Regions from separate parts of the Homo sapiens genome. Here regions 2 and 3 are each linked to region 1. The links come from fine-mapping of genetic effects on gene expression. A gene starts in region 1. Each other region holds a variant in brackets. All regions are shown on one strand. Distances are from middle to middle. Region 1 holds the start of ANKRD33B (ankyrin repeat domain 33B). Region 2 overlaps ANKRD33B (ankyrin repeat domain 33B). Region 3 has its middle 8.2 kb from the start of MIR6131.

What was found. PIP is the estimated chance that this variant, and not a neighbour inherited with it, causes the effect.
Region 2: its variant is fine-mapped to the expression of ANKRD33B in whole blood (TOPMed, PIP above 0.99).
Region 3: its variant is fine-mapped to the expression of ANKRD33B in fibroblasts (GTEx, PIP 0.96).

What each region holds. Positions count from the first base shown.
Region 1 is chr5:10,562,960-10,565,714 of GRCh38, reverse strand. ANKRD33B (ankyrin repeat domain 33B) reads right to left here and starts at 1,645. Exons shown (of 4, transcript NM_001164440.2): 1 at 882-1,645. The coding sequence starts at 1,247. RefSeq lists enhancers at 1-71, 92-141, 462-671, 1-687, 688-1,582 and silencers at 812-861, 1,202-2,061.
Region 2 is chr5:10,606,018-10,608,772 of GRCh38, reverse strand. The region is part of intron 1 of ANKRD33B (ankyrin repeat domain 33B); the gene reads right to left. Among named protein-coding and RNA genes, the nearest start is that of ANKRD33B, 43 kb to the right of the region's middle. RefSeq lists an enhancer at 558-807 and a silencer at 1,478-1,527. The variant C/T (reference allele first, on the strand shown) is at 1,366.
Region 3 is chr5:10,468,429-10,471,183 of GRCh38, reverse strand. It overlaps a transcript of ROPN1L not described here. Among named protein-coding and RNA genes, the nearest start is that of MIR6131, 8.2 kb to the left of the region's middle. The variant C/T (reference allele first, on the strand shown) is at 1,271.

The sequences.
Region 1 (2,755 bases):
CTTGGTGGAAGGTGTTCCACCAGCCAGTCCTTCTCAGGTCTTCTTAAGCCAACTTTTTTTCTTTTCCTTTCTTTTCTTTTCTTTTCTAAACATCTCGTTTTCTCTGAATCTGGTCATAACGAAAGGATAGCCTGTGCCTGCCTCCACGCCTCCTGCCCTACCCGGGTGGATGCCCGCGGCTCTGGGGCTCTCCCTATGCCCTGACTCTGGGGAGCCCCGGCTGGCATTGGCTCGCGAAGGTGACCTGCGGACAGACCAGTCAGAGATCACGTTGGCTGGTCGCGGCGCGGGCCACAAAGCTCAGCGGAGGTGGGGTAGGGGACCAAGCTGTCCCGGCGAGGGAAGAAACTGTTGCTTCCAAATCATTGCGGCTGGAGGAGCCGATCTGCGCCCCAGCGTGTTAGGACAAGGGCGGCGCGAGGGGCCCAGGGGCCAAATGGGGCGCTGGGCAGGAGGGGCTGTCTCCTGCAGGGGAGGAGGAATGGTCCCCTGCCAGGGACCTGGGGAAAGGTAATAGTCAGGAGGGGACCGGGCCGCAAGAAGCCCATCCTGGATTGCAGCACGGGCAGCCAGCGCGAATTCAGTCAGGAGGTCCACGGGGACCGGTAAACGAGAAGGGGATGCGGTGAGGACGCCGGACTGGCGTTTCTGCCGCGCTGACACCTCGACTGCTCCCTCCCCGCACCGCGTCCCCCAGCCTGAGACGGGGAAGCCACCCAGGGCACCGCGCTCCCAAACAGCGGGGAAAAGGCGCTCTGGGCGGCGGCTGAGTGACCGAGGGACCGGTCCGGAGCCAGGAGCTGGGAGGCGCGGGGATGTGGTGGGGAGGAGGGGAGTGGGGGCAGTGAGGGGGCTCAAATCCTGCGGGGACGCCCGCTTACCCTGCCGTTGCGGTCAGTCTCCTGCGCCTCCTCGACGCTCACCCCGCGCCGCACCAGCGTCCGCAGCAGCCCCACGTTGTTGGCGCAGGCGGCGCGCAGGAGGGTCGCCGTCTCCGGGACGCTTTCCGGGACGCCCTCCGGGACGCTCTCCGCGCTCTCGACGCCGTGCTCCTCCTCGTCCTCGAAAGGGTAGAAAGAGTCGTCCGAGGCGATGCTGCGGGTGTCTGGCAGACTCGAGAAGTCCTCAAACTCTTCGTAGTCAGCGGGGTCCTCCTCGACCTGCGCGCCCCGGGGTGGGGACGGCGGTGGTGGGGTCATGCAGCGCGCCCCGCCGCCCTCCGGCCCGGTCCCGGCCAGCAGCACCATGCCGGCGGCCGGGGCGCGGGCCGGGGGCCGGGGCGCGGGCAGGAAGAGCGGGACGCGGGGCGCGCGCCGAGGTCCCCGCTTCTCGCTTCTGCGTCCCCAGAGAAGCCGTGGCCCGCGCGCTCCAGCTCGGCGGAAACCGGCACCAGGCGGCTGCGCTCAAAGAAAAAAGTCTCCGGAGGCTGAGCGAGCCCCTGGGGTGGGCGGGACCGCGGGGGCTTTCCGAGGCGGGGCGGGGCGGGGCGCGGGGACACGCCTTCCCCCGGGGCCTTCCCCTCGCGCCCCTTCCTGGCCAGAGTTCAGAGCCAGGCAGGCGCTCTCTCGAGCGCGGGGACTGGGCACCTGGCAGCGTTGCCCCAGAGCTGGGGACAGCTGGCGCGGGAGAAGCAGAAGCAATCACTAAAGAAGCCGAACCCGAGTCGCGGGCGGCAAGCGGCCCCGCCCCTCCCTCCGCCGGCCCGCGGGATGGGGGCGGAGGTGGCGGCGGGGGGACGCCGGGGCGGAGCCGGCCTCCAGCTTCGGGAACCTCGGACCCCTGGAGCCGGCCTCCGCCGAGGGCGTCGGGCCCCCGGACCTGGGTGGGGCCGGTTTCTCCCGCCGCTTCAGAGGAGCAGAGCGGGTTTTCTCCCTTCGGGGGATCCCGGGCTTCGGGGCTGACTCCACCCGGCCGCGGCCGCTTGGAGGCCGGGGAATCCCCGGGGCGCTTGGCGGGCAGAGGAGCCGGGCGCGGGAGCGGAGCCGTCCACCTGGGACCTGTGCCCGGGGAGCGCTGCGGGCCGGGCCACTCTGAACTGGGGGCGGTCGGCTGCTGTGGGGGAGTCCCAGCCCGGAAGGGAGGACAATCCTCAGAGTCCCCCGTCTCGCGGAACCGGGGCCGGCCGTGGCTTGAGGGTTGGTCAGATCCTGGGATGGGGGGCGGGGTGTTCCGGAACCTCAGGGAGCATCTGAGTGGGAACGGACGACGAGGAACTCCCCGTCCCCATGCCTGGCCTGTGTCACGTGCGGGGATCTGCGGACTCACCCCCGGAGGCTGCGACTGGGCGCTGACCCCACGTCTGGCTGCCCAAAAGAGCAGGGCCGCGGGCGACAGCCGCAGTCCAGGCCCACAGCCCCTCTGGCCCGGCCTTGCCCTCTCCCCGTCAGTCCTGGCGCCGGGGATGGGCGGGGAGGAGGAGGGCGTGTGAGGATTTGCCACAGGGAGCCCTTGACTTCGGGGTAGGAGGCGTCGTGAGCCAATCTTGGGGGAAGGTCTCTGCGCAAAGGCGCGGAGGTGCGCTCGCGCCCGTCGCAGGTCAAAGACTGCGGAGGCCACCAGCCCTGTGTCCCCCTAGCCTCCTTCCTTCCTTTTTTTCCCCCGATCTTGACAGCGTGTCCACCAGCTGCCAGCCGGTGGGAGGCCCTCGCGGCCCCAAGGTGAACACAGCTAGGCTGGCGCAGCCGCTGGGGACCAGGCTTGAGGCCCACGTGCCGCTGGGCAAGCTGAGGGGCACGAGGGCACCGAATCCGAAACA
Region 2 (2,755 bases), 43 kb before region 1:
TCCTTTATAGGAATGCTTTTTGTCATGCGTTTAAGCAATGCCTCCCATTCAAAAACCCTAAAGATATTCCTCTGTATTTAATTTCAACAGTTTCAAGTTTTTTTTTTTTTCATAGTGAGGTCTTGAATCCACCATGGTTTTTATTATAGAAGTTTAATTTTACCTTTTTCTGTTTTCCTAGCACAATATATGAACACATCCATTCTTTTCCCATTGGTAGTAACAGCATGCTCAAGCTCATCCCACCTCCCCATAAACACAGGAATGAACCTGAGAGTTGCTCCCATTGGTCTAACAATCTACCTCAGCCCCAAGGCAATCCTGATTCGCTACTGCAGCCTTGTGTTTTGCAGGGAAGAAACCTTCCTTGCTCTTCCCCTTCAGAACTACCACGGCTCTTTTTTTTTTTTTTTTTTAGATGGAGTCTCGCTCTGTTGCCTAGGCTGGAGTGCAGTGGCACAATCTTGGCTCACTGCAATGTCCGCCTCATGGGTTCAGGCGATTCTCCTGCCCCAGCCTCCTGAGTAGCTGAGACTACAGTCATGCACCACCACGCCCATTTTTTTTTTTTTTTTTGTATTTTTTTAGTGGAGACAGGGTTTCACCATGTTGATCAGGCTGGTCTCGAGCTCCTGACCTCAAGTGATCCACCCGCCTCAGCCTCCCAAAGTCCTAGGAATATAGGCGTGAGCCCCCGTACTCAGCCTGCTGTTGCTATTCTTGATTACCAAGCTTCGTTTTAAAAGTCAAATTCAGTTCTCAGTCCTTCTAGAAGGAGTGGTGATGAAGATTGTGCAAAACACCAGACCACAGGTCACGAGAGGACGCCTAAGACGACATGCTCAGGCTGCCAGGAATAGGCATTTGTGCTCCTCCTAGAGAGGGCTAAAGGAAACTGCTGCTAGGAGGCACTCAGTAACAAGGAGCTTTAAATAAGAAGATGAACTCACAGACAGTCCAGCAGGAAAACAAGCAGCTGGAAGCTCATCGTCCAGTGTGTTTCACTGTCCCAAGTAGACTTCAGTATTCCTCAAAAATGTCCCTGACAACACTCTCTATTCTCTTCCACTTATCATATACAGTAGCATGCACAGGAGGAAGATTCACTCAAGTATGGGCGACGGTCTGTGAAGAAGCTGGTGAAAGTACACACACAAAGTCTTTTTTAATTGTTTGAACCAGGACAATTCAGTTGCACTGGATTCAGCTGCAGTACTCACTGGCGTTATTCCGTTATCTATTTCTTCCTGCCTCTTGGTAAAATTGCATTTCCCCACCCTTTCTGAGTTCTGACTTGACCATCTGGTTTGCTTTGGGTAATTAAACGTAAGTGAAATAGCAGGTGTCACTTCCAGGAGGAAGTTT[C/T]GAGAGACGGTGGACGATGTGCCACCTTCCCTTTTCTTGACTTGACTGCCCTTGAAGCTCAGAGATGCAACTGCTCCCAGACTGGGCCTCCGGAGTGAGGGCAGAGAGAGCAGAGCCCTGCCCCCTCTAGCCGGCGCACAACAGCATGAATGAGCGAGAGGCAAACCTTTGTTATTTTAAGCCACTGGGACTTGAAGTGGTTTGTTATCACAGCATCACAGTCTATTCTGAGTGTGTGTGTGTGCGTGTAACAGTAGCATACATCATCTATTCATGTGTCAGGTTGCCTACTTTCTTTTTCCCTTGGGAAGAACTGTCCTTTATTTTAAGATTATGTCTTTGATACTTGATTGGGCACAAAATGTACTTATAAAATGGGCTGGGCGTGGTGGCTCATGCCTGTAACCCCAACACTTTGGGAGGCTGAGGTGGGTGGATCACTTGAGGTCAGGAGTTCAAGACCAGCCTGGCCAACATGGTGAAATCCTGTCTCTATTAAAAATACAAAAAAATGAGCCAGGTGTAGTAACGCACACCTGTAATCGCAACTACTCAGGAGGCTGAGGCAGGAGAATGGCATGAACCTGGGAGGCGGAGCTTGCAGCGAGCTGAGATTGCGCCACTGCCCTCTAACCTGGGCGACAGAGCAAGACTCCACCTCAAAAAAAAAAAAAAAAGACAGAGTCTTGCTCTGTCGCCAGGCTGGAGTGCAGTGGCACGATCTCAGGTCACTGCAACCTCCACCTCGTGGGTTCAAGTGATTCTCCTGCCTCAGCCTCCCGAGTAGCTGGGACTACAGGCACTCGCCAACACGCCCAGCTAATTTTTGTATTTTTAGTAGAGACAGGGCTTCACCATGTTGGCCAGGATGGTCTCGATCTCTTGACCTTGTGATCCGCCCACCTTGGCCTCCCAAAGTGCTGGGATTACAGGCGTGAGCTACTGTGCCAGGCCAATATTTGTATTTTTATCTATGCTTTTCTGCTTCAAATAAAGAGATGCCTAATAAACTGTTTTAAATAAAGAAATGACATTTTATTAATAAAATAAATAAATATGTAAAATACATCAAGATAATTCCTTCCAACATGGGGTCACCTTGTAGCCCTGTAATCAGGATTTGATAAATTCAAGGTTGTCAGTAATTCAAAACAATTTCCCTTTAGACTAAATTTTGCATAAAACGTAAATCTTATTATCACTGCAAACCTCTCGCTGGGATTTATGATTTTAGATTAGTAATGTATGAAACCACTACTTTGTTCAACTGTATTCCCTCTGCCAACTTCATGTATATACCTAATCTATTCCTATCTCAGAGGCTCATCTAATTTTCCCAACACTGGGAGTGGTTTCCACGCAGTGATCATACAAGCATTATGTGATGAAA
Region 3 (2,755 bases), 95 kb after region 1:
CCTGGGCAATGGAGTGAGACTTCATCTCAAAAAAGAAAAAAGAAAAGAAAAGAGAATCAAGGAACAAATTCTCCCACTCATCACTGTCCCCTCCCCAAGAGCCACTTTACTCTTCACCTTTCCTTTGGAGTTGGGCTCCAAGGCTCTGGAGTCGGACTGCCAGGACCCAGTAACAGTCCCTGCCTTTCCACCCGGGGGACTTTGGACAAGGAAGTGTGCCTCCATAACACAGGGGTAATGACAGCAGCCTTCCCTGCCACTGGGATGAGAACTTAATTAGCTGCAAAACCCGTACGTGGCAGGGGGGCCAGCCCTTAGCAGGTGCTGGGTAAATGCATTTTCACCTAAGCCCGAATATTATCCCAACCCAAATGTCCTTCCGGCCCCGAGGCCCCACGGCCAGGGCACTTCATGGATGCTGTGTGGCTCTCCTGATCACGCCCTGCTAATACTTTACGTGAGATTCAAGAATGGGACTGGGGTTTGAGGTGGGACATGTGCCCAGAAAGCCATTCCATATCCCAGGCCAACTGGCTCCAACTCAGCACAGGAAAGCGTGGGATCCCTGCTCCAACCTCGGGGAAAGCATGAAGGTTCCAGGAAACAGTGGACATCAACCCAACCCCACCTATCCAGTTTCTTTCACCTGTGGGGGCTTCTGGCCTTACCAAAAGCCAGAACGGGGAAATGGGACAGATACGGGGAATGCTGTTGGATGGAAGAGTTGAGAGGGACAGGAGTGTGAGGCCAGGTGGGTGGGCCTGGACCCTGGGCAGAAGGAGGACCTGGCTGCCCCTGGCATCTTAGTTCTAGGCCAGTCCCCTCTAAAGGGGGTTAATCCTACTTCTGTCCACTTCATGGGGTCCTGGTGGGGATCCCCTTCAATAACCAGGGGATTGTACAATTGTACAAATTGTACAAAGCAACATAATAGAGTTGGGATTTTCCTTGGAGGACGGGGGACCTGAACACATTTCATTCTTGAGATGCTAAGGCACAAAGCCGCAGGCTGACAAGGGTTTCATCGACCTCTGAGAATGTTTAAGACTTGAAAAAAATTATTGGCTGCAAATTACGGAAATAGCAAAATCAGACTCAATAAATGATTAATTTCTGTGTTCATTCCTCATTAATTGCTAAATTTAGTATACATAAAAATCTCACTACATTTGAAAACGATTTGTAAGTTAGATTCTCTCACACAATGAGAATTCACAAGTATGTTAGTGATTGCCAAGAAATAACAACTAATCGTAAATTCAATGTGTGA[C/T]TCTTAGCACAATCATTTCAAAAGCAAATCATTGGCCCTGCCCAGCCACCTCAGAACTCCACCATGCTGGGTAAGCACGTATTTCTGGAGTCATCCCTGCTTTCATTCTTTTCCTATACCTCATAAACCAACAGAAGAAATATACTCCACTTTCTTTAGAGATGAAAAATACAGAAGCCAACAAATAAAGTTAGCTTGAAACCAAATAAGCCACTCGTTGCTGCCTGGACAAAGACTTAAGACACATATTTCAATGGGACAGAGCATTCTTTAAGTCATAAGATAAAACCACTGTCCACTCATCTGCATCTTGTAGCTTTTTCAATTCTGCTTCCCACCACCCCCCTCCCCACACTGCAATTAAGGAAAAGCAGGTGTTTTTCAAAGTCACACCGTATGAATGCCAGGAACTTTTTTTTCTTTTTTTGAGACGGGATCTCACTCTATCGCCCAGGCTGGAGTGCAGTGATGCAATCATAGCTCACTGTGGCCTCAACTTCCTGGGCTCAAGCTATCCTCCCACCTTGGCCTCCCAGGTAGCTGGGACCACAGGCGTATGCCACCACTTCCAGCTGATTTTTTTTTTTTTTTTTAATTTTTTTGTAGAGAAAAGGTCTCACTCCATTGCTAGGGCTGGTCTCAAACTCCTGGGCTCAAACAATCCTCCCACCTTGGCCTCCAGAAGTGCTAGGATTAAGGCATGAGCCACAGTGCCAGCAAACGCTCCATCATCTTCAGAGTTTATTTAATTTTTATTTTTTTAAAGAAAGTTGCTCTGTCGCCCAGGCTGGAGTGCAGTGGCACGATCTCGGCTCATTGCAAGCTCCGCCTCCCAGGTTCACGCCATTCTCCTGCCTCAGCCTCCCAAGTAGCTGGGACTACAGGCGCCTGCCACCACGCCCGGCTAATTTTTTGTATTTTTAGTAGAGACGGGGTTTCACCGTGTTAGCCAGGATGGTCTCGATCTCCTGACCTCGTAATCCACCCACCTTGGCCTCCCAAAGTGCTGGGATTAGAGGCGTGAGCCATTGCGCCCAGCCCAAAGTTTATTTTTAAAGTGACTTCAATTGGAAAAATTGTCTTTGACTCTTGAGGTGCTAAATCCAGATGTGGCCTCCTCTCCACGTGATAGCAAATCTCCCATTATTGTACTGGAGCCCCTATCAATCCCGTTAGGGTCCTCAGGCACCTCCTCCCATGTTCATTGCAGCAAGGGAGTTTCTGCTGTTCTCCTCCCAGAGCTACTTTCTTCAAACACACCAGCCACCTGAACAGTTTATTTTATTCAACATCTTGACCAGTTAATGATATTTGCAATAAAGTTTGTAGTTATTAAATAAACCATTTGAGTTACCCCCTAAAGACAAGCAACAATCTGACTGAAAGCCCAACTACCTATGGCTATTTTAACAAGAAATAACTGCAGGCTATGAAGGGGAACATAGATGATTCAGCCTTGTAACAAGAAGAGTCAAAATCAACAGA